4 linked regions of the Homo sapiens genome follow. The protein of the gene in region 1 interacts with the protein of each later gene in a biochemical or structural test. Each region holds a gene or a part of one and is shown on either strand. Other genes may lie near its edges. The genes, in order: KPNA1, NOSIP, SENP2 and CSE1L.

What was found.
Region 2: the proteins of KPNA1 (region 1) and NOSIP form a complex in vitro, tested with the Homo sapiens proteins (2 studies listed by BioGRID).
Region 3: the proteins of KPNA1 (region 1) and SENP2 form a complex in vitro, tested with the Homo sapiens proteins (one study listed by BioGRID).
Region 4: the proteins of KPNA1 (region 1) and CSE1L form a complex in vitro, tested with the Homo sapiens proteins (one study listed by BioGRID).

What each region holds. Positions count from the first base shown.
Region 1 is NC_000003.12:122,448,928-122,455,950, forward strand, and holds part of KPNA1 (importin subunit alpha-5), read right to left. Parts: intron 5,075-7,023; coding exon 4,943-5,074; intron 3,138-4,942; coding exon 3,049-3,137; intron 2,707-3,048; coding exon 2,607-2,706; intron 811-2,606; coding exon 647-810; intron 1-646. UniProt on the Homo sapiens protein: Functions in nuclear protein import as an adapter protein for nuclear receptor KPNB1. Binds specifically and directly to substrates containing either a simple or bipartite NLS motif.
Region 2 is NC_000019.10:49,577,534-49,585,288, forward strand, and holds the start of NOSIP (nitric oxide synthase-interacting protein), read right to left. Parts: upstream 3,024-7,755; 5' UTR 2,982-3,023; exon of another isoform or gene 1,608-2,981; intron 1-1,607. Other genes in the region: PRRG2 (transmembrane gamma-carboxyglutamic acid protein 2 isoform 1 precursor), read left to right, coding at 5,687-5,771, 6,009-6,184, 6,380-6,419. UniProt on the Homo sapiens protein: E3 ubiquitin-protein ligase that is essential for proper development of the forebrain, the eye, and the face. Catalyzes monoubiquitination of serine/threonine-protein phosphatase 2A (PP2A) catalytic subunit PPP2CA/PPP2CB.
Region 3 is NC_000003.12:185,610,274-185,617,296, forward strand, and holds part of SENP2 (sentrin-specific protease 2), read left to right. Parts: intron 1-1,377; coding exon 1,378-1,472; intron 1,473-2,333; coding exon 2,334-2,385; intron 2,386-3,071; coding exon 3,072-3,135; intron 3,136-4,290; coding exon 4,291-4,467; intron 4,468-7,023. UniProt on the Homo sapiens protein: Protease that catalyzes two essential functions in the SUMO pathway.
Region 4 is NC_000020.11:49,084,303-49,091,325, reverse strand, and holds part of CSE1L (exportin-2), read right to left. Parts: intron 6,044-7,023; coding exon 5,940-6,043; intron 3,318-5,939; coding exon 3,220-3,317; intron 2,080-3,219; coding exon 1,929-2,079; intron 1,789-1,928; coding exon 1,580-1,788; intron 585-1,579; coding exon 487-584; intron 390-486; coding exon 304-389; intron 1-303. UniProt on the Homo sapiens protein: Export receptor for importin-alpha. Mediates importin-alpha re-export from the nucleus to the cytoplasm after import substrates (cargos) have been released into the nucleoplasm.

The sequences.
Region 1 (7,023 bases):
CAGAGTTTTCTATTTTGTATTAATACATTATAACTATCTAATATATTCCAAATGTCATGTTTGCGACAATGTCTCTTTGCATCTACTTTGTACTTTAAATCTCCCATACCTTGTAACTGTACCATTTCTCCATTATGTTATCACTTTCATTTTTTTCTTCTGTAGTATCTAAAAATTTGATTAATACAGTCTCAAATTATTTATGTCACGAGTAAATCTTCCACTCCATTATCAAAAGCATCACGGAGATGATAAAGCAAAATAAGATTGAATTTCTGATACTTGTCTAAAATAAGCTCTAAATGAGACAGACAGATAAGGAATGACTATTTTAGTGGCAGTATGCCTTCTGATGTCCGGTGGTTGATCTCAGGCCATCCAGTATGAGCCTGGAACTACACATATCAGAGTTTTCCCAATGTTTCTGCTAAAGGCCTGCTAACAGCAGAGGACTAAGAGGTTCTCTATAAGCCTCAATAAAACAAGACAAACAGATCTGACATCAAAATAAACAAGTAACAAAAACAGTAGCCCAAAGCACAATAAATCAATTATCATGTACAATCCATTAATATTTAAGTATTAGCAGCTAGAAAACTAGTACCAAGGGAGAGAAAGTGGACACACTTTCTAAAAGATATCTTACATCAGCAGTTCCACAAGTCTCCTACATACTCCCGCATCGATGACCGCTTGAATTTTATCATTGGGTCCATCTGATAGATATGAGAGGGCCCAGCAGGCATCAGCCAGTACATCAGTGTCACTGACAAACAGCAACCAGGAAAGCACATTCAGACATGGAGAAACCTGTAAAAGGAAAATGATGATTATGAAATTCAATAGACTAAAAGCCAGAAGTGAGGTGAGATACTCAAGAAGGCAACCAGGCATGTACTTGGTGACTTCTAGGGTGATTTACACTTCTAAAGATGAAGCAGCAAGTACCTAAGTGGCATTTCCATCTTTGGCAATGTTGTCAGTGATCTTGCACTAATCTGTAGTCAAAGCCCAAGGAAAATAATTTCAGAGAGCAAAGTTTTATATACATCAATTCTTGGAGTAAGACTCCCTATCAAAACACATTCTTTGTGGACTAAACAGGTAAAGGAACTTTCACAAATGTGAAAACTAGGAAATTCTGTATTTTAGATACTTTGTTAAAGACCAAAAATGCTAAGGTTTTGTTCAGTGAAAAATGATTCCAAATTAAAAACAACTACAAAAATACCCATTTATTTTAATATCCAGAATCTGCAAGAAATTCAAATCAGCAAGAAAAAAAAATCCCATCAAAAAGTGGGCTAAGGACATGAACAGACAATTCTCAAAAGAAGATATACAAATAGCCAACAAACATATTAAAAAATGCAGCTGGGCGTGGTGGCTCACGCCTGTAATCCCAGCACTTTGGGAGGCTGAGGTGGGTGGATCACCTGAGGTCTGGAGTTCAAGACCAACCTGGCCAACATGGTGAAACCCCGTCTCTACTAAAAATACAAAAATTAGCCGGGTGTGGTGGTATGCGCCTGTAATCCCAGCTACTCGGGAGGCTGAGGCAGGAGAATCACTTGAACCTAGGAGGCAGAGGTTGCAGTGTGCCGAGACCGCGCCACTGCACTTCAGCCTGGGCAACAAGAGCAAAACTCCGTCTCAAAAAACCAAAAAACAAAAAATAGATGTTGGCATGAATGTGGTGAAAAGGGAACACTTTTACACTGTTGCTGGGAATGTAAACCAGTATAACCACTATGGAAAACAGTGTGGAGATTCCTTAAAGAACTAAAAGTATATCTACCATTTGATGCACCAGTCCCATTCCTGGGTATCTACCCAGAGGAAAAGAGGTCATTATAAGAAAAAGATACTTGTATACGCAGGTTTATAGCAGCACAATTCACAATTGCAAACACATGGAACCAGCCCAAATGCCCATCAATCAACAAGTAGATAAAGTCACTCAGGACTGGAAAACCAAACATCAGATGTTCTCATTCATAAGTGGGAGCTAAGCTATGAGGACGCAAAAGCGTAAGAATGATACAATGTACTTTGGGGACTCAGGGAGAAAGGGTCGGAGGTGGGTGAGAGATAAAGGACTACACACTGGGTACAGCGTACACTGCTTGGGTGTTGGGTGCACCAAAATCTCAGAAATCACCACTAAACAAGTAACTCATGTACCTAAACACCACCTGTTCCCCAAAAACCTATTGGAAAAAAAAAAAGAATCTCATGGACTCCCAGAGAACTCACAGACCACACTTTGAGAACCACTGTTTTAAGAGAACTGAAAGGATAGTCTCCTAAACAGTATACTAATTGTATGAAGCCTAATTTCAATAAGCTTTACAAATTCTTCCTTCATGCTATGCTTTATTTGCAGTCCCATCGTAAATGTGCACCTTCAAGCTATGCTCTAAATTTGCTTTTTAAATAATAAAGAGAACCAACAAAAACAACAACAACCCTGTTTCTCCAAAAACAGATAAAATTCTAACATTTTAAATTTTAACAAAAATTATCTTCCTGTTCACCTTACCATTGGTTGCAATACTCTTTTAATTGTATTTTTTCTGCCAATGTCCCAAAAGCATAGTCCTTACCTTTGCAAATTCTGGAGGTGGACTTTTCCCTCTACAGAGATTAGACAAAGCCCATACTGCATTCCGGGTCATGGTCAGGCGGTTTTGCTTTGAAAATAACCTAAAAGCACGATGGTACAATGGTAAACTATGTAACAGACAGTGATTATCTGATGACATAAATACTAAATAATAATACTTTTGATAAAGAGATGTCTTCAGATAGCTTTTCTCCAGAACATTAAAACTTCATTAATTCTGATGCAAGTAATTCAGAATTCAGAATTTTGGCATGGAAAAAGATAGGGTGCTTGAGGAAATGATCTAAACAAGAAAATATCTGGAATTAAAAATAACACTAGAAAATCCAAAATGATTTCCAAACATGTAATGCTTTCTGAGGAATCTCTTACATTTTTATTCTCAAAAAGAAAAAAAAAGGAAGAAGGAAGAAGAAACTTACTGCAAAAGAGGGGGAAGGATATTGCAGTCTAAGACATAGTCCCTGCACATGGTACTATCTCCAGCAATGTTGCCAAGAGCCCAGACTGCCTGTGAAAGAATCATTCATTAATAAAGGTTACATAGTTTAATTCCCTCATAATTCTTTCAGATGCCAGTATATCACAATAACACGTTCATCAGGGAGTCAAATGAAACAGTTGTAGGATTGGGGGAGGAAGATAAATAATATCCTAAAGTGTACAACAAACAGAAGGTATTCGGTTTATTAAAGGAAAGAACTAATTCATTTTTGTTTGTTTTTGTTTTTTGATACAGAATCTCGCTCTGTCACCCAGTATGGAGTGCAACACAGTGAAACTCCATCTCTACTAAAAATACAAAATTAGCCGGGTGTGGTGGCAGGCGCCTGTAATCCCAGCTGCTTGAGAGGCTGAGGCATGAGAACTGCTTGAACCTGACAGGCCAAGGTTGCAGTGAGCCGAGATTGAGCCAATGCACTCCAGCCTGGGTGACAGGGACAGACGGAAGGAGGGAAGGAGGGAAGGAGGGAAGGAGGGAAGGAGGGAAGGAGGGAGGGAGGGAGGGAGGGAAGGAGGGAAGGAAGGAAGGAAGGAAGGAAGGAAGGAAGGAAGGGAGGGAGGGAAAGGAGGGAGGGAGGAGAGAGGGAGGGAGGGAGGGAGGGAGGAAGCAAGAGAAGGAGGGAAGGAGGGAGGGAGGGAGAGACGGAGAGACGGAGGGAAGGAGGGAAGGAGAGACGGAGGGAAGGAGAGACAGAGGGAAGGAGAGACGGAGAGAAGGAGAGATGGAGAGACGGAGAGAAAGAAAGACGGAAAGATGGAGAGACAGAAAGAGAGAAAGACAGAAAGAAAAAAAGAGACAGAAAGAGAGTATTTTCTTGCTTACATAAGAAAACAGTGAACAAAAAGAAACTTGCTTTCTGTACTTTTCTGCACAAAAGTGGCAAAGACTAGCCACTTTCTTTTTTTTTGAGATAGGTCTCACTCTGTTACCGAGGCTGGAGTGCGGTGGTGTGATATCGGCTCACTGCAGCCTCAGCCTCCTGGAGCTCAAGTGAACCCTCCCACCTCAGCCTCTCAAGCAGCTGGGACAACAGGCGTGTGCCACCATGCCCACCTACTTTATTTTCTGTAGAGACTGGGTTTCGCCATGTTGCCCTGGCTGGTCTCGAGCTCCTGGGCTCAAGCAAGCTGCCCACTTCAGCCTCCCAAGTGCTGGAATTACAGGCAGGAACCACAGCACCTGGCCTACTTTCAACACTTGAAATTTCTACAAGAAAAAACCTCTATCAGTAACTGCTTACATGGTCTAAAAAAGTACATATACAGGGCTTAAAGAATGTCAGGTTTGGAAGGGGAAGATTATTTTATGTGTCTAAGAGAAATTCTGCCTACAGTCACTAAGAAATTTTCTATTTGGTTAAGACTAAATTTCTAGAACACTCCTTTGTGACAATCCATAGATTACCAAAGCCAACTGGTGAAACTCAGCCCCTTATTATGTTGGGAAATTTTGTGGTTTTTTTTGTTTTTCTTTTTTTGTTTGTTTTGTTTTTTTTGAGACAAAGTCTTGCTCTCGTCACCCAGGCTGGAGTGCAATGACGCGATCTCGGCTCACTGTAACCTCCACCTCTCGGGTTCAAGCAATTCTCCTGCCTCAGCCTCCCAAGTAGCTGGGATTACAGACACGTACCACCATGCCCGGCTAATTTTTGTATTTTTAGTAGAGACGGGATTTCACCATGTTGGCTAGGCTGGTCTCGAACTCCTCGTGATCCACCCACCTTGGCCTCCCAAAATGTTGGGATTACAGGAGTGAGCGACATGCCCAGCCAAAAACTTTCTTTCACCTGCTTCTTTTTGTTTCATTTTTACCTGTTCCTGGACATCTTCAAACTCTGAGCTGAGCAACTCTATGAAGATGGGCACAGCTCCTGCCTGAATCACAATTCGGGTCTGAAGAGAATTTCCTGAAGCAATATTTGTCAGTACCCAAGCTGATTCAAACTATAAAGATAAAAATAATTTTCATTATCTTTTTAGAATGTAAAAGTTTGTTTACTTATAACAGTAACATTTTCTGTACATGAAAAAAAGATTCTGAGATCATTATTTGCACATAACCTATCAGTTGAGTACTATATTAATTTTAAAAGAAGAATATCCAGAAGAAATACCTCAACCTAGAAGAATATTCAGGGTGTCTAAAATTTCAGTTCAAGAAAGAGTAAACATGACACCATAAAAAGAATGAGAGAGTGTTACATATGCTGATATGGTATGATCTCCCAAGATATAAATGAAAACAAAATGCAAACAGTGTACATTAATATGGCATTATACCATATTTTCTAAAAGCGTTAAAAAGGAATATATGCATTAATTTACTTATTGCACAGATTATCTTCAGAATGAGTTAGAGGAAACTAAATACTTGTTGCCTGCATAGAAAGGTGATGGTAACTAGGGAATAAGGATGAAAAAGATACTTTTCACTGGAAAGCTTTATGTGCCTTTTAGCCTGTACCATGTATGTTATCTAATAAAAAAGATTTAAAAACTTCTGTAGAATGGGCAAAGTAAAATGGGGGGAGAATGTTAGTGTGAAACATAAAATACAGGCACAGTGAAAAAGGCAAAAGGTATCAAATGATAAGTAGGTGAAAGGAGTTAACAGCACATAATGAAAAGAAATGACAACTTCAAAGAATAAGAGCTTCCAATAAATGAGAGAGCTCCAAACCAAAATACAGAGATAGGACTTTTTGGGCATTCTTAATAGGGAGGGAAAAATGAAGGTAAACTGACTAAAGGTTGATATATAGCATTACAGCACTGGTAAACAGAAGATATAAAGGAAATTATGGCCAACAAAAAATAGAGCATATTACTAAAATATATCTCTAACACTAACTTGACTCTTTAGCTTAATATTGAGAAATCCAATAATGAACTCTTTTCTATTTAGTTAAGAGTTCTTAATTACATTTCAGGTTGTTTCTTCCACCATTCTGTCTTCTATTTAATAAAGCACATACACAGAAAAAAAGAAAAATTCCATGGCATGTCCTTTAAATCAGAGAAAATAACAAGTCGTCATCAAATGACCTGTGATTCTTCTAAGCTTCCAGATTAACTAAAAGGTAGCTGTCAGGTAGAAAACTAAATTCATTAATCTTTGGGAATAGAGGAAGACAGGAAAATGGGCCATCTGATCAAATCACGTTCAAAGCCATGTTAGTGATAGAAAATTCATAGCAGAAGACACATAACCAATGGATGTTCCAAAGAAAACTATAAAAGTGACATACATGAGTGAGGTAAGGTGGTTTAGTAGCAGCAGGGAGGCCCAGAGTAGGAGTACTTCGGTTAAAGAGCCCGTATCTGGTCCCTTTTTGTTATAACAAAAATTCTGGGGACTTACAGATTAAACCCCAGATATCATGAAATAAAAATTCTTCCCATATTTATCTCTATGATTAAATTACTAATGAAAGCAACACTCAGTCCCTTTCAGTACGTCTGAATTAAAACTTGACATTTGTACCGTACTTTATATTTTCTTTTTTTTCTTTTTTGAGACAGAGTCTCAGTCTTGTTGCCCAGGCTGGAGTGCAATGTCACGTTCTCAGCTCACTGCAACCTCCACCTCCCGGATTCAAGTGATTCTCCTGCCTCAGCCTCCCAAGTAGCTGGGATTACAGGCATGTGCCACCACGCCCGGCTAATTTTTATATTTTTAGTAGAGACGAGGTTTCATCATGTTTGTCAGGCTGGCCTTGAACTCCTGATCTCAAGTCATCCTCCCATCTAGGCCTCCCAAAGTGCTGGGATTACAAGCATGAGCCACCGCACCCGGCCACTTTATATTTTCAAAGTACTATTCACATACTCGCAGATGATCCCTACAACAACCCAGAGATGTAAAGTATCTGGCTTTTCTTGTGTACAAATGA
Region 2 (7,755 bases), on another chromosome or scaffold:
TGTCTCAAAAAAAGAAAAAAAAAGAAAAGAAGTATATCTTGGGTAAAGGAATATTATCCAGCCATAAAAAGAATAAAGTAGCTGGCTGGGCGCCGATGGCTCACACCTGTAATCCCAGTACTTTGGGAGGCCAAGGCAGGAGGATCACTTGAACCCAGGAGGTTGAGGCTGCAGTGAGCCATGATCGAACCACTGCACTCCAGCCTGGGTAACAGAGCAAGGCCGTGTCTCGGGAAAAAAAAAAAAAAAAAGAAGTATTGATACATGCCACAACATAGGTGAACCTTGAAAACATGCTAAATGAAAGAAGGAAGGCAGTCACAATAATATTTTATGGTTTCATTTGTGCAAAATACCCAGATTAGGCAAATCCACAGATATAGCAGAGTAGTGGCTGCCAAAGACTGGGGTGGGAAGGATTGGGAGGAAATAGGGAATGACTGCTAATGAGTACCAGGGTTTCTTTTTGGGTGATGAAAATATTCTTAAAATGATAGTGTTGATGGTTGCACAACTCTGTCAACGTACTAAACACCACTGAATTGTATATTTTCAATGGGTGAACTATATGTTAGGTAAATCATATCCCACTAATGCTTTTTTTTTTTGAGAGGGAGTTATGCTCTTTTGCCCAGGCTGGAGTGAAGTGGCATGATCTCAGCTCACTGCAACCTCTGTCCCTAGGGTTCAAGCAATTCTCCTGCCTCAGCCTCCTGAGTAGCTGGGATTATAGGTGCCAGCCACCATGACCAGCCAATTTTTGTATTTTTAGTAGAGATGAGGTTTTACCATGTTGGCCAGGCTGGTTTCGAACTCCTGACCTCAGATGATCCACCTGCCTTCACCTCCCAAAGTGCAAGGATTACAGGCATGAGCCACTGTGCCTGCCCAATGGGGATTTTTAAAACAGGTAGCTGGCAGGATTTGAGTTTGGTCTGTAGAACATAATTAGCTGATCCCTGGCATGAGGAAACAAGTAAAATGAGGCCGGGCTCAATGGCTCACACCTGTAATCTAAGCACAGCACTTTGGGAGGCCAAGGCAGGAGGATCGCTTAAGCCCAGGAGTTTGAGACCAGCCTGGGCAACATAGTGACACCTTGTCTCTATCTATTTTTTCTTTTTTTTTTTTGAGACAGAGTCTCACTCTGTCGCCCAGGCTAGAGTGCAGTGGCGTGATCTCGGCTCACTGCAAGCTCTGCCTCCCGGGTTCACGCAATTCTCCTGCCTCAGCCTCCTGAGTAGCTGGGACTACAGGTGCCTGCCATCATGCCCGGCTAAGGGGTTTCACCGTGTTAGCCAGGATGGTCTTGATCTCCTGATCTCATGATCCGCCCGCCTTGGCCTCCCAAAGTGCTGGGATTACAGGCATGAGCCACTGTGTCTGGCCTATTTTTAAATACTTAAAAAAAAAAAGAAAGAAAACAGAAGCAGGTAAAATGAGACCACAAAAAAGCAAACGGGACAAATTCAGATGGTGGGATGATCAACTGAACTAGAATTAGTTTCTTCAATGAATCGATTACACCAAGAAATAACCAAAGTGGAGTGGAAGGGGGAACAGTTCTAAATTAAGAGAGATGTAAAAGACGATAGCAATTACTTAACTATATCCTGATTCCAACAAACCCACAGTTACACTGGACTTGACTCTGCACCACGTAATGGATAGTAGTCTAGAATTACGGTTGTTCTTTTAAAGTGTGATGATGGTATTGTGGTCATATCAGCAATGTTTCTGGTTTTTACACACGCACCCTGTTAGATAAAATTTATAGAAGGTCATTGGTTTGGATTGAGCTCCTGCACTAGGTTCAACAGACCAAACCAAAATGGAGACACTCATGCTAAAGTTCCATGCTTCCAAGCCAAAACTAAGTTGATATCTGATCTTCTGAGATATCAGGAGAGAGATAATAGCCAAATCCCCAAACAACCCAGTTTTAGCCCACCTGATAAAGGAAGTCCCCTCTACTTTAACCTTTAACTTAGAAATTTAATCAAGTTAATCAATTTAATCAACTAGCTTTTTGTTTTCCGTTTCTGATTTTCTCAGCCCTTTGTCTCTGAAAACAACCTCTGCTCAGCTCATCGGAACACTCACGCTATTTTCCATAATTAGATGTTGTTTGATTGTAGATTCACGAATAAATGCCAATTAAGATCTTCTCACTAAATGTGTTGCAATTTTGTCTTTTGACAATCCTTAAGTGTCATGATGCCTACGATTTGTTTTAATCTCTTTAAGTTTAAAAAAATACAGCAAGTATGGCAAAAATAATCATTGGTGATTTGGGTGACAGGAATTCCTGTATTCTTCTCTCACTTTTATATAAGTTTGAACATTTTCGTAAGAAAACATTAACATCAAACTGCCTCAAGGACCGTTCAAGCCCCAAGTTCACAGAATTAGCAGCACAATCAGAATGGGAATCCATGACTGCCTGACCCCGAAGCTCCACACAAGAAAACGTGAATCCCTGCACCAACCCCGAAAGGGAAGGGGCTGTCAAAAAGGTGAAGAGAAGGTGGCGATGGATGACTGCACAATCTAGTATCGCCCGCCGTCCCACCACAGTCTGAGAAACTGAGGCCAGGAAAGGAGTTCTCCCTCCTCAACTCCCACTCCTTAGACCCCCAGCAATCCCAGTCCACTCCTTCCCTTGGGACCACCAGCAAATAGCCATCATCTACAGCAGAACTGTAACTCTCAGGAGAACTGGCCGATGCTAGCTACCACTTGACTGAGTTTATAGTGAGAGAGAGAGACAAAGAGAGAGAGAACTGCCCGATGGACGGTTGGCCACCTCCAGCAGAGTGTAGTTCAGCTTCAAACTTGGGGCGCCCGGACAGCTGTATTAATAATGATTGACAGGGAATCGGGAATCCAAAATCTTGCCCCAGTCTCCCTCAAGACCCCAGGCCTCTAGCCCGCAGGAAAGCGATCCCAGCAACACTCTTCCTGCACCGCCTCGAACTCACCTCACTAACGACTCCCAGTCCCTCGGTCGCTTCTTCAACTGTGCCCCGACACCGGAAAGGAGCACTATTTTCCCCCTCCGCTCCGCCCACTTCCGCCCAGCAGAAGGCACCGGAAGTAGAGCTGCCCCTAGTTGCGGAAGTGCCTCGCCTGGCTTGCTCAAGTCCTCTCTTCTCTTTCTCTCTCCGGAAACGTGAGTAGCTAATCGAAAGTTCCGGATATTGAAACTGGTGGGAATATGGGGAACGCTTACTATGTACGAGGCATTTCCCAGGGAGATCGTTTTTTCCTGCTTGGTTCCCAGGTTTTGAGTCTCTCCAAGCCCAAATTTAAGGACTAATCACTTCCCCTAGAGATCGGGAAGCCCACTTTCCCAAATATATCATCCACTTTTCTTGCTGCATCTTAAAACAATTGAGAAGAGACAACTACGCTCCCATTTTACAGACAGAGCCATTGGGAAATTGAAAATCAAAGCCGTTCAAGTCGCTCTCAGGAAACAGGGATTTACTGCGGCACTGCCCAGCTGTCCCAGGGACTAAGGCATATCGTTCCCGCTAGTTTCTAGATACCTAGAGACCTAGATATTAATTTTTCTAGCTCGGACAGACGAACTCCCAGGGGAGAGCCAGAGCGGGTAGGGGTCGGGAGGGAGGAGGAGGGTCGAATCTAATCCCCCAGGTATCCCATGGTATTCGACACCTTGGCTTCCTCATGGAGCTCTGGCCTTTAAGTCCTTTATCCCAAGGTCCCTTTAAATACTTTGTCCCTTACCTGAGTCCCGCCCAGGGCAGGTAATGGCAAGTTCCGCCCACCTGCCAGAAACGGGGATCAGGCCTGGTTACCGGGAGTGGGGCGCCCCTCCTCCTTATCCCCTCCCCTCTTCCCTGTCCCCTTTCACAGCTGGCTGTAGCTGGCCAAGGAGTTCTCGATTAAAGAGGAAGGGGCAGTGCTCACATTTCTGGGCAGGTAAGTGAATGTCCCTGGAGGAAGAGCCTGGCTTGGGGACCCAGGCATCCTGGCTCCCCGCCCCTCCGAGACCCAGAAGTTTGGGGCTCCTAGGCCCAGGAGTCCAGGGCCCCTGCCCACTTAGGTCCCTAGACCCAATAATATAACTAATCCCCTGCCTCTGCCTCTCTCGTAATCTTTGTTGTCTGTGGGTGGATGTGACAATGAGCACAGAAAGAGGCACAAGTGGAAATTACCAGGAAGGGAAGACTCCAGATCACCAGTGGACATGTTTATAAGCATCTGTGTCAGGTGCTGTAGACACAGTGGGGAAAGAAAGATAAGCTGCCTGCTCCTTGCTTTCTTCTCTGGCGGACACTGCCTTCACTGAAATCCTGGCTCTCACACTTGCACACTGTGTGACCTTCGGCAAGCTATATTACCTCTCTGTGCCTCAGTTTCCTGTTCTCTATACTGGGGATAATAATAGGACTCCTGGTCGGGCGCAGTGGCTCACACCTGTAATCCCAGCACTTTGGGAGGCCGAGGCGGGTGGATCACTTGAGGTCAGGAGTTTGAGACCAGCCTGGCCAACATGGTGAAACCCCATCTCTACTAAAAATACAAAAAATTAGCCAGGCGTGGTGGTGCGCACCTGTAATCTCAACTACCCGGGAGGCTGAGTCAGGAGAATCGCTTGAACCCAGGAGGCAGAGGTCACAGTGAGCTGAGATAGCGCCACTGCACTCCAGCCTGGGTGACAGAGCGAGACTCTGTCTAAAAAAAAAAAAAAAAAAAAACTCCTGTGAAAAGTTTTGTTTTGTTTTGTTTTTGACATGGAATCTCGCTCTGTCACCCAGGCTGGAGTGCAGTGGCACAGTCTCGGCTCACTGCAACCTCTGTCTCCCCTTTCAAGTGATTATTCTGGCTCAGCCTCCCAAGTAGTTGGGATTACAGGCGCCCACAACCACGCCTGGCTAATTTTTGTATGACTCCTGTGAAAAGTAAAATGAGTTGAGGCCGGGCACAGTGGCTCACGCCTGTAATCCCAGCACCAGCACTTTGGGAGGCTGAGGCAGGCAGATCACTTGAGGTCAGGAATTCAAGACCAGCCTGGCCAACATGGTGAAACCCCATCTCTACTAAAAATATGAAAATTCACTTTGGGAGGCTGAGGCGGGCAGATCACGAGGTCAGGAGATCGAGACCATCCTGACTAACACAGTGAAACCCCATCTCTACTAAAAATACAAAAAAATTAGCCGGGCATGGTGGCCGGCACCTGTAGTCCCAGCTACTCGGGAGGCTGAGGCAGGAGAATGGCATGAACCTGGGGGGTGGAGTGTGCAGTGAGCGGAGATCACACCAATGCACTCTAGCCTGGGTGACAGAGCGAGACTCTGTCTCAAAAAAAAAAGAAAATTAGCGGGTGTGGTGGCGCATGCCTGTAATCCCAGCTACTTGGTAGGCTGAGGCACGAGAATCGCTTGAACCCAGGACACAGAGGTTGCAGTGAGCTGAGACTGTGCCACTGCACTCCAGCCTGGCTGACAGAGCGAGACTCCATGTCAAAAAAAAAAAAAAGTAAAATGAGTTTATATAGGTAAACAGTATCTGGCACAGAATACAGGCTGTGTAAGTGGCTGCTATTATTGCCATTCGTGGACCACAGAGGCCAGTCAGAGAGGCACTGCCTCATTACCCAGGGACTAAGGCCCTTGTCAGCTGTAACAAACCTGGTTCTAGGTGTCTGGAAAATATGAGGGGCCACCCCTCTCTGCTGCTGCTATATATGGCATTAACCACCTGCCTGGATACTTCACCCAGTGAGGAGACAGACCAAGGTGAGTGTTTGGGGGAAGTGGCATCCAGACACTTGGCGTTGGCCTCCCCCTGACTCAGGAATGTTTCTAGTCCTTCCTCTTCCAGGAGTCCAGGACCCAGCCCCTTCCTCCTTCAGACCCAGGAATCTGGATTCCCAGCCCCTGCTCCTTCCTCCAGGACCCCACTGCTTTCCATCCCCCTATGACTCCAGCCCTAGGGACCCTCCATTTTTCTGTCCCTCATGTCTTTGGGTCCAGAAGTCTTCCTGGGTCCCCCAGAGGCCCAGAGCTTCCTGAGTAGCCATACCCGGATTCCAAGAGCCAACCACTGGGACCTGGAGCTGCTCACACCAGGGAACCTGGAACGGGAGTGTCTGGAAGAGAGGTGTTCCTGGGAAGAGGCCAGGGAGTATTTTGAGGACAACACTCTCACGGTGAGGGCCTCGAGACCCTGGAGTTTCGGGCCCTCTCTCTTCTCTATACCTGTGGGGAGGTTGCAGGGGTAGGTTCTGGCCTTCAGCTCCCTCCTCCTTGGTGTCTCAGAAATCAGGATGGGCTAGTTTGGGGGTGTGAACCTCCCAGCTGAATTCCTGCTTTTTCCCCTTCTTTTCCACTCCTTCCCCCTCAAGGAGCGCTTTTGGGAGAGCTACATCTACAATGGCAAAGGAGGTGAGTGAGGGGCTGAAGCCATCTTGTTCTGTGCAGCTAAGGTAGTCCCTTCCCAGCGAGGCCAAACCAACGTCCTCCACCCCAAATTAGGTACAAGAATCGTCTGCCCCCCAATTCTGTGCTCTCTGAAGCTGGCTGCTAAAGGAGTTCCCTCCCTTAAGACCCCAGCTTGCCTGAGGAGCCCCCCACACCTTATTTTATTTTTAAATATTTATTTTTGCTTTTTTTTTTTTTTTGAGACAGAGTCTCGCTCTGTTGCCCAGGCCGGAGTGCAATGGTGCGATCTCGGCTCACTGCAAGCTCCGCCTCCCGGGTTCACGCCATTCTCCTGCCTCAGCCTCCCGAGTAGCTGGGACTACAGGCACCCACCACCACACCCGGCTAATTTTTTGTATTTTTAGTAGAGACGGGGTTTCACCGTGTTAGCCAGGATGGTGTTGATCTCCTGGCATCGTGATCTGCCCGCCTCGGCCTCCCAAAGTGCTGGGATTACAGGCGTGAGCCACCGCGCCAGGCCTTTAATTATTTATTTTTGAGACAGGGTCTCGCTGTGTCACCCAGGCTGGAGTGCTGTGGTACAATCTTGGCTCACTGCAGCCTCAACCTCCCGGGCTCAAGCGATCTTCCCACCTCAGCCTCCTGAGTAATTGGGACTCCAGGCACACATTACCATGGTAATTTTTGTAGTTTTTGTACAGACGGGGTCTCACTATGTGGCCCAGGCTGGTCTTGAATGCCTGGCCTCAAGCAATCCTTCTGCTTCAGTGTCCCAGACTGCTGAGATTATAGGTGCCAGGCCCCCCACCACATCTTATTGGACGCAAGTCCTGTGTCCCTAGGAAGGGAAAAGTGTCAGTGGAGGGAAAGGTTAGAGCTGTGGGGCCCGTCAGGCCTTAGGCTCAGAGGGGCAGGCCCACCTGAACCCTTCCCTGGTGTCCAGAGTAAGTGGAAAGACCAGCCCCTCCGGCAGCTTGATTGCTGGGGACACAGCCCTCTAGCAACACGACCAAGGGAGGAAGCCTGCCCATCCTCACCTGCCCATTTTGCCCCCAAGAACCCCTTCTCTGAGGGGTTGCCATCTTGTTCCCATCTTGTTGCCAGCCTTGTTGCTAAGGGGGGCTGCTCCTTAGCAACGGGGCCTGGCCAGGCCAGACCAGACGAAGAAGCCTGAAGCAGTACCTGGCTGATTTCCCCTCCCCCACAGCCCCATCCCAGCAGCTGCCTGGTTGCTAAGGAGGCCTTCTCCCTAGCAACCACACCTAGCCAGGCTCCAGGACCCAAGGCCTTCTGCCCACTGGAGGACCACCCTCCGGGCCTCCGATGCCCCACCCCCTTG
Region 3 (7,023 bases), about 63 Mb from region 1:
CCTCAGCCTCCTGAGTAGCTGGGATTACAGGCGTCCACCGCCACGCCCAGCTAATTTTTTGTATTTTTGGTAGAGATGGGGCTTCACCATGTTGGCCAGGCCGGTCTCGAACACCTGATCTCAGGTAGTCCACCAGCCTCAGCCTCCCAGAGTGCTGGGATTACAGGCGTGAGCCACCGCACCCGGCCTACTATCTAGCTTTTGAATGCAGAAATAACAGATTGTTTGCGAATAATCAGTTGTGAACTTTAAAAAAAAATTCTTTTGGTTTAGTCAGAATGTCAGTATTTTCTCCATTTTGACCAGCCATATGTTGGAAACAGCAGTATGTTTAACGAACTCTTAACTTTGTCATGTTGGCGAAACCCTCAAACTATTTTTGCTTTTTAAAGTTGCTGCTTTGGCTGGGCACAGTGGCTCACACCTGTAATCCCAGCACTTTGGGAGGCCGAGGTGGACGGATCACGAGGTCAGGAGATCAAGATCATCCTGGCTAACACGGTGAAACCCCATCTCTACTAAAAAATACAAAAAATTAGCTGGGCATGGTGGCTGGCACCTGTAGTCCCACCTACTCGGGAGGCTGAGGCAGGAGAATGGCGTGAACCCGGGAGGCGGAGCTTGCAGTGAGCAGAGATTGTGCCACTGCACTCCAGCCTGAGCTACAGATCGAGACTCCGTCTCAAAATAAATAAATAAATAATTAAAGTTCCTGCTTCTGGCTGGGTGTGGTGGCTCACACCTGTAATCCCAGCGCTTTGGGAGGCCGAGGCAGGTGGGTCACTGGAGGTCAGGACTTCGAGACCAGCCTGACCAACATGGCGAAACCCCATGTCTACTAAAAATACAAAAATTAACCAGGTGTAGTGGCGTGTGCCAGTAATCCCAGCTACTTGGGAGGCTGAGGCAGGAGAACCACTTGAACCTGAGAGGTAGAGATTTCAGTGAGGCCATGATCACACCACTGCACTCCAGCCTGGGCGACAGTGCGAGACTCCGTCTCAAAAAACAAAAAGTTCTTGCTTTTAATGTATTGTTTCAGGATCCATTTAAATACATAGCTTAAAAAGTTTTTTATCTTTTAATCTGAGTTTTATCACACTGAGATTTTTCAGTTAGTGCATCACTGGGGATTCAGAACCTCTGATTTTACAAACAGAGAAACTGGAGGTTAGGTGACCTGGCTGAAATATTATTAGAATCATGATTAGACTCCTTTTATCCTAGTCCCACATAGTTGCTTCCTTTCTGTTGTAATTTGATATAATAGTGTAATCAATCACCCCTATTTGGAGAAGCTTGCTGGACAGAGATAATGCATATTAATGGTAGACTTTGCTTTTGTATCTGATCTCCCTCACTTTTTGTGTTTCTAAGTTCTCAAAGAAGTCAGATGGACACATTAAAGACCAAAGGCTGGGGGGAAGAGCAAAATCACGGAGTCAAAACAACTCAGTTTGTTCCAAAACAATGTGAGTTCCCAGATTTAGCCTTGTCTTAATATATTGACCTTAGTTCATGCTACAGTGTTCATATGAGGTAGAAAATTGACATTCAAGTGTAGATGGTGTACCAAAATACTGTCAAATCTCACAGCATTGGGCCGGGCGCGGTGGCTTACGCCTGCAATCCCAGCACTTTGGGAGGCCAAGGCAGATGGATCACCTGAGGTCAGGAGTTCAAGACCAGCCTGGCGAACATGGTAAAACCCCATCTCTACTAAAAATACAAAAATTAGCCAGGCATGGTGGCACTTGCCTGTAATCCCAGCTACTCAGGAGGCTGAGGAAGTAGAATTGCCTGAACCTGGGAGGTGGAGGTTGCAGTGAGCCAAGATCACGCCACTGCACTCCAGCCTGGGTGACAGTGAGACTCTGTCTCAAAAAAAAAAAAAAAACCTCACAGCATTGACTGGGGCTTATCTAGGAATTTAGTAGAAAAGCTGTTTCAGGGTGAAGTAGATTCATAACATGGCTCTGGATTATTATTCCTAAGCTGCTAGATAGTAGCAACTATTTTGTGAGCTGAAATTTTATTATATTCCTTATATAACAATTTCCTTATACTTCTCCACTTACTGTCCACTAAATGACAGCTTACCAGATAAGCAGATATCACTCAGTTTATAGTAAAGATTATATTTAAACAGCAAAGATATGTATGCATTTTTTTAGGCAACTTAGTATATAGGGAGGCTAGTGTCTTTGGAATTCACTGTAGCATTTCAATGTAGAGGAATGTCTTGATGTTGTGGAAACTCTGTAAGCTGAAATTCTAACTATATTATTCATCGATGAAGGAAACATTTAATCTTTTCTTTACCATCCTCACAGATAGACTTGTTGAAACAAGGGGACCTCTATGTTCATTGAGAAGTGAAAAGAGGTACGTACATTCAGTTCATTCTACACTTTCTTTTAATATATATTTTCTTACTTTATAAGCTGTATTTATGAGTAAGCAGTTCTGAGGAATTGTGAACTCTCTTGAGTTCTGGTAGTTGGTCAGCATATAGGGTAGATAGGTAGCTAGCTGTTGTGTCAGATGCCCACCCTAGCCTGGTGGGTTGAGGGGGGTGCCCCTTATCTCCCAGGCGTCAGGGGTTGGGAGAAACACATGCTTCTTAGATGGGAGTTTGGTTGGAGTGGGGATGTCTAGTGTCAGTGTCTTTAGGATAGGAACAGTAAAGGCAGCTCTGCATGCTTTAGGATTTTGGGATGATGGTTTATAGCAGAGTTTGTAAACTATGGCCCATGGGCCAAATCTGGTCTACTTGCCTATTTTTGTATAGTAAATTTCTATTGGAACATGCGAATTCATTTACATACTGTCTGGCTGCTTTTAAATTACAGTGGCAGAGTTGCCACGATGTGCCCAAGACCATAAAACCTGCAAAGCCTAAAATACTGTCTGTTCCTTTTCAGAAAAGTTCGTTGACTCCTGGTTTAGAGTATTATGTAAACTCAACACAATTTTTATGTACAAATTACGAAATCTTATTTCTAAAACTAGGATGTACTAGGTTTGAATCATCTAGCAGAAGTCTATCATCTCTCAATTTTTTTCCTTAGGTGTTCAAAGGGGAAAATTACTGATACAGAGACGATGGTCGGAATCAGATTTGAAAATGAAAGTGTAAGTAAAAATCCTAGTTACATTTGATACCTGTTTACTTATGTAACTTATGTTTTGGTGCCCATGAAAAGCAAGAAAAAGTATATATATATAACTTTGATTGTTAATTCTGTTGTTTTTCTTTAAAAAAGCAGCAAGCCAGCCAGTCACAGTGGCTCATGCCTGTAATCCCAGAACTTTAGGAGGCCAAGGCAGAAGGATCACTTGAGCCCAGGAGTTTGAGACCAGCCTGGGCAACATAGTGAGACTGTCTCCACAAAAAAATTTAAAAGTTAGCCAGGCATGGTGGCATGTCTGTAGTCCCAGCTACTTGGGAAGCTAAGGTGGGAGGATTGCTTGAGCCCAGGAGGTCAAGGCTGCAGTGAGCTGTGATCACACCATAGCACTCCAGCCTAGGTGACAGAATGAGACTCTGTCTCAAAAAAAAAAAAAAAAAAAAAGGCAGGAAGCATTGAAAATACACAACTTTTTTCTTCCTTCTGAGTTGTTGGAGTTTTGCCTCTGTACAGTAGCCACCTTTGTTTATGAGAGACCAATCTGCCTCCATACCAACATGTTACCTACATTTTATGGCTTCTTAGGGAGAATTTCTTAAAAATCATACATCTCTGGAAAGAGATGATATGTTCTGGGTTGCTGGCAGAATTCTATTTGTTTACTACAATTGTGGTTATATAGGTGTTCATTCAAATTAAGTGGTACATTAATGTTTTGTGCATTTTCTGTAATATCAAATGACTTTTTTCAAGGATAAACTAGAACCAAGTTGAGTTACTATAAAGATAGTAGGGATTTATTCTGAGTGATGGGATTGTGGGTCATATTTTTTGCTGTTTAAAACTTTCATAATATCTTTTAAACATACTAATTTTAATTGTGATAGGAGAACTGAAAATACTTTTCTTGCTACTTCCAGGGAAGGTGGTGAGTGTTCTGTTTGATGGTTCATAACTGAGGGTCCTGTGAGGCCTAGGTCTGGAGCTTTTTTTGCTCCCCCTTGCAGGGACAGACAGATAGGGTAAATCTACTCACTTGGGGGATTTGCTAATTCTCTTTTCTTTCACATTAGTGGCAGTTTTATATTTCATGTGTAATCTGTGTTTATATTTGCAAGTATCAAACATGTCAGTAGAATTTAGATAATTTTTTGATCAGAGGAGGGGATACCAACTGGAGCCTGACCTATCAGAAGAAGTGTCGGCCCGACTCCGCCTGGGCAGTGGAAGCAATGGCTTACTCAGGAGGAAAGTGTCAATAATTGAGACAAAGGAAAAGAATTGCTCAGGCAAAGAGAGGGACAGAAGAACGGACGATCTCCTTGAACTTACAGAGGTATTGTTCTTTGTATTGATCCTAAAAAGAGGCATGTCTTTAAATAACCTCAGTTATTCTAACTTGAATGTTTTGTTTTGAGGACTTTCTCCAGGCTAGGGGTGAATATATGAAAACATGTCAGGTCCATGGTCTGTTGATTCACTTTGACTACATTGATCTTTAGTGAGGCATGATCATTAGTGGCCTAAGGGATCAGATTGATATTCAGCAAATGGGGAGTCGACACAGTCATCTCATATCTTGGAATACAACAGATTCTTTGTAAATTCTAACCTTCAAATATGTTGAGTTATATAGTATGGGTTTGGCATTAAGAATAAGTTCATTGCATTTTTTTTTTGAAAGTTATTATAGTTTACTAAAATGCCCCCTTTGTTGATTATTGCATTTGAAAATAGTAAAAACTTACAGAACATAAAGAATGAAGGTAGTTAAAATTCTTATTTTAAAGATGTGCCCACATCTTGGCTTCCTCCACAATGTTGCCCTAGTAGGCAAATCTCTTGAATACTTACTGTTATATTGGGCATGTAGGTGGAGAGAGAGATCCATAAAATGGTGAAGCTGTGTGCAGTGGGAAGCAGCATATATTTAGAAGAAAATAATTTCTTTTTTTTGAGACAGAGTTTCGCTCTTGTTGCCCAGGCTGGAGTGCAATGGCGCGATCTTGGCTCACTGCAACCTCTGCATCCTGGGTTCAAGTGATTCTCCTGGCTCAGCCTCCCTAGTAGCTGGGATTACAGGCACCTGCCACCATGCCCAGCTAATTTTTGTATTTTTAGTAGAGACCGGGTTTCACCATGTTGGCTAGGCTGGTCTCGAACTCCTGACCTTAGATGATCTACCCACCTCGGCCTCCCAAAGTGCTGGGATTATAGGCGCAAGCCACTGCCCCCGGCCTAGAGGAAAATAATTTCTATTGGGTTTATAGATTTAGTTTTGTATCTTAAATAATGCATTTATCTGCATAATTCTTTAGTATGATGAAGCCATTTATTCCATAAGGAGTCAATTGCTAGACTGCTGGGTGGTTTCCAAGTTTCTGCCTGTTTGCTTATTCTCTTCATGTCAAAAAGGATGGTGTGACCCCTTAGATGTCCTAATCTTATTTTGATGTTTTATTTATTTATTTATTTTTGAGATAGAGTCTCGCTCTGTTGGCAGGCTGGAGTGCAGTGGCACAATCTCAGCTTACTGCAACCTCTGCCTCCCAGGTTCAAGTGATTCTTCTGCCTCAGCCTCCTGCGTAGCTGGGACTACAGGCGCGTGCCACCACGCCCAGCTAATTTTTGTATTTTTAGTAGAGATGGGGTTTCACCATGCTGGCCAGGCTGGTCTCGAACTCCTGACCTCATGATCCGCCCGTCTTGGCTTCCCAAAGTGCTGGGATTACAGGCGTGAGCCACCACACCCAGCCTTTTTTGATGTTTTAAAAGTTTAAAGGCGAGAATGGGCGTGGTGGCTCACGCCTGTAATCCCAGCACTTTGGGAAGCCAAGATGGGCGGATCATGAAGTCAGGAGTTCGAGACCAGCCTGGCCAGCATGGTGAAACCCCGTCTCTACCAAAAATACAAAAAAATAGCTGGCATGGTGGTGTGCACCTGTAATTCCAGCTAATCAGGAGACTGAGGCATGAAAATTGCTTGAACCTGGGAGGCAGAGGTTGCAGTGAACTGAGATCATGCAGCTGCATGCACTCCAGCCTGGGTGACAAAGTGAGAATCTGTCTCAAAAAAAAAAAAAAAAGAAGGGCCAGGCTGGTGGCTCACACCTGTAATCCCAGCACTTTGGGAGGCCGAGATGGGCAGATCACGAGGTCAGGAGATCGAGACCATCCTGGCTAACACAGTGAAACCCCGTCTCTACTAAAAATACAAAAAATTAGCCGGGCGTGGTGGCGGGCGCCTGTCATCCCAGCTACTCGGGAGGCTGAGGCAGGAGAATGGCGTGACCCCGGGAGGCGGAGCTTGCAGTAAGCCGAGATGGCGCCACTGCACTCCGGCCTGGGAGACTGAGCGAGACTCCGTCTCCAAAAAAAAAAAAAAACGTTTAAAGTGGAAATCAGGAGTTTACTATTATGAAGGGAGCAAAGTCCAGGAAATTAGATGCACCTGGGTTCAAATCTTCTTCTACCTTTTAATAATTATATGACTTTGAATATGTAAAATAAATTCTCTGGGTTTCAATTTTCTTCTCTATAAAATGATAATAATGTCTTCCTCACTAATATGGATCAATGATGTGCTTCAAGCATCTAACACCATGTTTGACTCATAGTGGTTAATACGTAGTAGTAGGAAAATTGAGACTATACTTTAGATGTAAATATTATTATTAAATTATTGTTTCCACAAGCTAATAAGTGAACCAGGATTTGTTGTAAGTATTACTTACAACAATTAAGTAAGGCTGCTTTGTAGTTATAAGTTAAAATATTTTCAGGGCTGGTGCAGTGGCTCATGCCTATAATCTCAGCACTTTGGGAGGCCAAGGCAGGTATTGCTTGAGCCCAGGAGTTTGCAACCAACTTGGGCAATATAATGAGGCCCCAT
Region 4 (7,023 bases), on another chromosome or scaffold:
AGCCTCCCAAGCAGCTGCGACTACAGGCACATGCCACCATGCCTGGCTAATTTTGTTGTACTTTTCGTAGGGACAGGGTTTCGCCATGTTGCCCAGGCTGGTCTTGAACTCCTGAGCTCAAGCGATCGGCCTCCCTTGGCCACCCAAAGTGCTGCGATTACAGGCATGAACCTCCACACGTGGCCAAGTATTTTTTGCATAAAGTTTAAAACGGATAAAAAATGTATCTGCAACCATAAAGTCTAAGGGTTTTAGCTACCTTCTTTCATTACTTCTGTAGAACATCCAGATGATTTTACTTACTCTTGATAAACTTGGTTGTTTTGGAATTCTGAAGTCTCTGGAATAGCAGAATGAAGATTTGTTTCCTATATTGGTCAACTGATTCACTAAAGAATTAAAAAAAATCAACAATATAAATTTAGGACTTTTCTGAGCACCTAACAAAATTTCTAAATAAATGCACAAAGTTCTAGTCATACTCACGGAGGCATGTGCTCTATTATACTGTTTAGAAGATAAAAACCTTGGTGGTCATTTGCTTTGGATGCAATCAGCTTCTGAAAGACACCTAGTAACCCAGGCTGTTAAGAAATGAGATCCAACAGAAAATGGTTAACAGGAATAATTATTCGAAAAGTTAAACATGATATATGTCTTAAAACAGAGTTCATACTGTAATAATCTATCCTTTTCTCTTTAATTATTTCTGAAACATATGGGGAACAATTCCTCCCGCGTAGCCATTAAAGTAATTTTTTTTTTCTTTGAGACGGAGTTTCACTCTTGTTGCCCAGGCTAGAGTGCAATGGGGCGATCTTGGCTCACTGCAACCTCTGCTTCCCAGGTTCAAGCGATTCTCCTGCCTCAGCCTTCTGAGTAGCTGGGATTACAGGCACGTGCCACCACACCCACCTAATTTTTATTTTTAGTAGAGACGGGGTTTCGCCATGTTGGCCAGGCTGGTCTTGAACTCCTGACCTCAGGTGATCTGCCCACCTCGGCCTCCCAAAGTGCTGAGATTACAGGTGTGAGCCACCACGCCCGACCAAAGTTAAGTTCTTAAAATCAACCTGTTTGGCTCTGTTTTTAAAATTTTCCATCATGGATATAAATAACTAAAGGATACAGAATTCTGATAAAACATACCATAACATTTTCTACTAATTATTTCCGTTATTATTATTATTATTTTTTTTAAGAGACAGGGTCTAGCTCTGTTGCCCAGGATGGAGTGCAATGGTGAGATCATGGCTCACTGCAGCCTTAAACTCCTGGGCTCAAGCGACCCTCTCACCTTAGCCTCCCAAGTAGATGGGACCACAGGCATGCTCCACTGTGTCCAACTAATTAAAAAGCTTTTTTTTCCTTTGTAGAGATAGATCTCACCACGTTGCCTAGGCTGGTCTTAAACTCCTCGGCTCAAGGGATCCTCCCACTAGAGGCTCCCAAAGTGGTGGGCTTGAGCCACTGCCCCCAGCCTTAAATTTATTTTAAATAAAAAAATTTCAAACATCTGCCATCCCCAGTTTCTCCAAGCTACTTTATAAAATTACAGTTATATCAAAACCTGACGCACAATTTTGTCAGCTGCAGCACTTGCTATTGTGTTTGAACCGCGTTCTAAGAATGCTTGAAGAAGCCTCACTAGAGCAGGAATATTTCCTGTTCTTTCCCAAAGCACTGGCTGAAGGAGATGAGGAAATAAGGCCATATAGGAAGACGGGATGTCATTTTTGTGTGTTTCCAGAAGCAAAGACATCACTTGAAAGACGTATGGAATAAATTCTGTTGATAAAAGTAAAAACAGAGCTGTGAGCTTCAGAAGGAATGACTGACACAAAAGGCCCACATCGCTTAGGTGGGCTGCATTTTATAGCCATGTTAATTTTATTCCATTACAAAGAAAATAATTTCCGTTAACTTACCTTGCACATCATTTTGTAAGATTTCAGTAAACACCAAAAACAAAGCCTCCTCAAAATTTACAACAGCAGCAGGGTTAGCTTTGCAAGTTATTCTTATGGATAAACATATTGCTTCAAACATGTAGTGATTAAAGTGAGGTTTGCTTGGGTTCTGAAATTAAAAAAAAAAAACCTAATTATGCTAATAATCCACACCTAACCTTTATAAAACACATTTAAAATAGAGGCCATCTTATTTTTTAAAAATCAAAATTAAGAAAAAAACACCAATTATACCCTAGTGCTTGTTCATTTGAATTTTTTTTTAAATGGCCCAAAGTCCACCATGAAAAAAATACTTCAGAGTTACAGAGTTGCTTATACAAACCTCAGATCCCAGAGCTGTAACTTGTCTTAAGCCCACGTGCCCTCGCAGAGAAGAAATACTAAGTCCTAGTAATGCCACTAGCCTTAACTTCTGTGGGCCTCAATGTCTATGTCTACTTACTGATAATCCCCCAAATGAGTAGTTTTTTATGTTCTTTTTAAGCAACAAAACCCCATTTTTCTTTAAACAAGTTCTTGGAAGGCTACTAGCATACAAATCTAACTCAATCAGAACATGAGATGGTAATACATATGGGAGGCGGAGACTTGGGTTCCCTCCCCGCTCCATCCCTCAAGGCCCTAAGTAGTCCAAAGACCCTTAGCCCTAACTCAGTTGAATAATAATCACTCTGTTCTCCAAAATCCCTCCAACACTTCCTATGAATTGATCTAATTCTCATAAGATCAAGAATAGCATCTAAAAAGGAATTCTGTCAGCCTTAAACGGATTTATTTTCTAAAATTTAGTGTTAATAAACATGAATCTAAGTATCTGTAAAATTTTGATCAGAGTGAACTTTCCTTTTGAGAAATAAGAGTAAGGAAGAAAAGACAACACAAAGGATTTTAATCATCATTTCATAGAAGTCCAGACAGCCTCTTTTATATCCATTTAGTGCAAAGCCTACTTAACTCCATTTAAGGTAATTTTGGATCATCTGCACTTTCTTTTTCTACAATAAACATGTTACTTTTGTAATGAGAATGAAAATGTATTCAAGCTTCTAGCACACACTTAAAGGTGACTGCTATTACGTCTCCAATCTAACAGCATGCCCACACTTTCAGAAAAGTCCATTAGTGGCTGGTCAGGAAGAATTCACAGACCTTCTCTAAAGCTTCACGTAATGCCAAAGAGTTCTGAGGCCCAAACAGTTTGGAGCAAATAAAAAAGGAACCCCACTTTCAAAATTGGCTCTATTACCTTACTAACAGCTAATAGCTTCTGTGTAAGCTGAGTGATGAGAGTAGGGATGTAGGGGATTATGGCTTCTTGTAGGAGAGAAAAACTTCTCATGATAGCTGTAAAATACAAAAACAGCAAAAACAAATAGAGTTTAGTTAAACTTCAGAATAAGAGAGCGACTGGGGGGAAAAAAGCGCACTAATTCATCAACTAAATTTTAAGATGCTTAGACAACCCCGAGATAGCTCTCTACATTTAAAAATAATCTAAATTTCCCTTCCTTTTAAAATTAGGACGGGTTGGCAACAAAATTTAGCTGGGAAATACTGAGTATTTCTAGAAGGCTCAAGGTTTAAAAAATAATTAAAGAGGTTGACTAAGAGGAAGAAACAGTGAGCTGACATGAATGGAGCAGGTGAGTCTGAGAGAGAACTGTTTGGGGTCTCTTTCTCTTAGAAATCAGTAGCAGAGGCCATGCTTGGTGGCTCACACCTGTAACCCCAGCACTTTGGGAGGCCGAGGCTGGCGGATCACTTGAGGCTAGAGTCTGAGACCAACCTGGCTAACATGGCAAAACCCATCTCCATTAAAAATAGCAAAATTAGCCAGGTATGTGGTGCACGTCTGTAGTCCCAGCTACTCGGGAGGCTGAGGCTTGAGAATCGCTTGAACCTGGGAAGTGGAGGTTGCAGTGAGCCAAGATCATGCCACTGCACTCCAGCCTGGGAGACAGAGCGAGACTCCCTCTCTCTCTCAAAAAAAAAAAAAAAAAAGAAAAAGAAAAAGAAACCAGCATCAGAAAATGTTTAGCCCTAGCCTAAAGGAAACATGATCACAAACTACAGGAAACTGAAGAGAAAACTGCCTATCCACCTCCCTCAAAAAAAGAGATTAGGAGCCTAAAAAAATTCTAAAAATACATGTAAAGCCACAGAGTCCAAATTGCAAAAATATTGCTCAAAAGACCATAAATGGGTTAAAAATAGGAAGCATGGGAGAAAAATAAATTTGTCAGCTAAAAATGTATAAAAGCTCTCTTTCCACAAATAACATTTCTAAAATAAATGTTTACTAAGCAGAGCCCCAAATACATGCCAAGCATAAAGGACAGAAAGCTATCTGCTCTTGCCTCCTGAACTCTGCACATCATGTTTCCTCCTCTACTGGAGTCAAAGACTCATCCACCCTTCAACAGATTGCTACCTATCCCTCACACCTAACGTTCGGTTAGGTCATATCTCAGCTTAGAGATCACTTCCTAGAGAAAATCCTTCCCTGACCTGGGTTAAAAGGGCTAGAGGATAAATTGGTGCTCCTCCACTAGGCTGGCGCAGAATTATTTCATTCACTCATACAACCGTACAGAGAAGGTATTACATACTGTGTATTCTTACATACCCTAAAAACACAGTAATGAAGATTACAGACTAGTTAGCCGCTCTCATAGAAATGGACATTAAGGCTGGGCGCAGTGGCTCACACCTGTAATCCCAGCACTTTGGGAGGCTGAGGCGGGTGGATCACCTGAGGTCGGGAGTTCAAGACCAGCCTGACCAACATGCAGAAACCCTGTCTCTACTAAAAATACAAAATTAGCTGGGCATGGTAGCACACGCCTGTAATCCTAGCTACTCGGGAGGCTGAGGCAGGCGAATCGCTTGAACCCAGGAGAGTGAGGCTGCAGTGAGCTGAGATTGTGCCATTGCACTCCAGCCTGGGCAACAAGAGTGAAACTCCATCTCAAAAAAAAAAAAAAAAAAAAAAAGGACATTAAACAACAATAATTACACAATTATACATCATTGTTGGGGGAAGGATAGTGTTGGAAACATACACCCAGATACACACATCCACTCTAGGATTTCTGATCCAGACTGAAAAGATCAGGGAGTTTCTCTGAAAAGTGCTTCCTACAACCCAATGTGCTAGGCTTTTGGGATGCAACAGTGAAAAACACTGAGACTATCTCTAAATTCAGAGCTGGCACCAGGACACTCAACTAATGTAGTGCCTGGTGGATGGATACACCAGCCTGTGGATGGATACAGCTGCCTGTGTCCTTGGCAGTACGTAAGAAGACACGATTTGTGCAGAGTCTACCACAGGCACCCACATTTCACCCCTACCTAGGTGAGCATGCAGTTAATAAACGTTGCATGATCTCTTCTTTGCCTTAAAGAAACTCAATCTAGGGAAGGAAAAAAGGGCTTTGCTACATTTTCTGTAATGAGAAGTTCCATATCAAATTAAGATTACTGTTGGCCAGGTGCAGTGGCCTCTAATCCCAGCACTTTGGGAGGCTGAGGCGGGCAGATATTTGAGGTCAGGAGTTTGAGACCAGCCTGGCCAATATGGCAAAACCCTGTCTCTACTAAAAATACAAAAATTAACCGGGCATGGTGGAGTGCACCTGTAATCCCAGTTACTCGGGAGGCTGAGGCAGGAGAATCGCTTGAACCCAGGAGGGAGAGGTGGCAGTGAGCTGAGATCAAGCCACTGCACTTCAGCCTGGGCAACAGAGCAAGGCTCCATCTCAAAAAAAAAAAAAAAAAAAAAAAAAAATTATTGTTAGTAGTAAACAAGATAATGTTTTTCATTTTGAAATATCTAAACTAACTTACTACTTGGTAAACATTATCTGGTTCATAGACTGTATAACCTGAAGTATAACTCAGAGTGCTCACCCTTACAATCTGAGATTGGATACCTGTAGTCTGCACACCAGGGAAACAGCCTACCTTTCATAATATATTCATTTTCTGAAGAGCCAGGAAGTGTGAGAGCTTTGAAAAGGTTTGTTAGCAGAATCTCAACAAACGGTGCGATTTCTGCAGCTGTAAAGCTATAGATGAAAAAACAGCTTTCAGTCACTACCAACTCTTGAGCTTGTCACTGCAGATTACCCTTGGCAACCACTATGTCACCCTTCTCAGCATAAAACTGAGCCATCTCCCACCACTGACAATTGATAGACAGTTTAGGAAAATAATTTTTTTACATGTGCTCATGTTAGGCTCCTAAGAAGGCACATCGAGAACCAAACACAACTGAACCAAAAAGCCAGCTAAACCCAACAACATCTGAAGTTGAAACAGTTGTCCCTGGTTTATATCTATTACCACTGAGAAAGAACTCAGAATCTCAGGGGACTCTGTCATTTATTTTGTTTTTGGAGGTGGAGCCAAGATTCAGAACTGTTTTCTGCATAAATTCTGGGCCTGAAGATAGGTACTGGCTTGACTCACCTCAAAGGATGTCCTTTCTACCCTTAATTGGCCACTGAGAGTATCTGTACTTCAAGTTCTTGATGAAGGAAAGAACCTAGAACTGTTTTCCATCTCTTACCCAAAGCTCATTTCAAGAAATAATACTGTTGAATAGTGGCCTGAAAGACATGCAGACCATCCATTCCTCTACATTTCATCCTGGTTCAGGCCAGAAGACCTATTTTCTTGGTCCCCAGTGAATTACTTTCATTCGGTTAGGTCATATCTCAGAAATAAGTGACCTTACGCAAATAGCCACATGAAAATAACTGTTACATGATTGTTGCTGAGAACACTACTACTACTATTGTACAGTATTCTCTGCTTTAACTTTTATCTCATAGACCCTGTGAAAATTTTAACTTCCCAAGTTTCCCTCTTTGCCCTGGCTGCTAAGAGACTCCAAATAAAATTTGGAGTTTCTTGGACTACTATATAGGATCCTTTGACACACATTTCTGTTTATTAACTTTATCTCAGTTACTTTCCTTGGCTCCAGTTTATTAAATTGTATTGTCATAATGCACCTATTTTAGTAAGCAGCCTCAAATGCTTT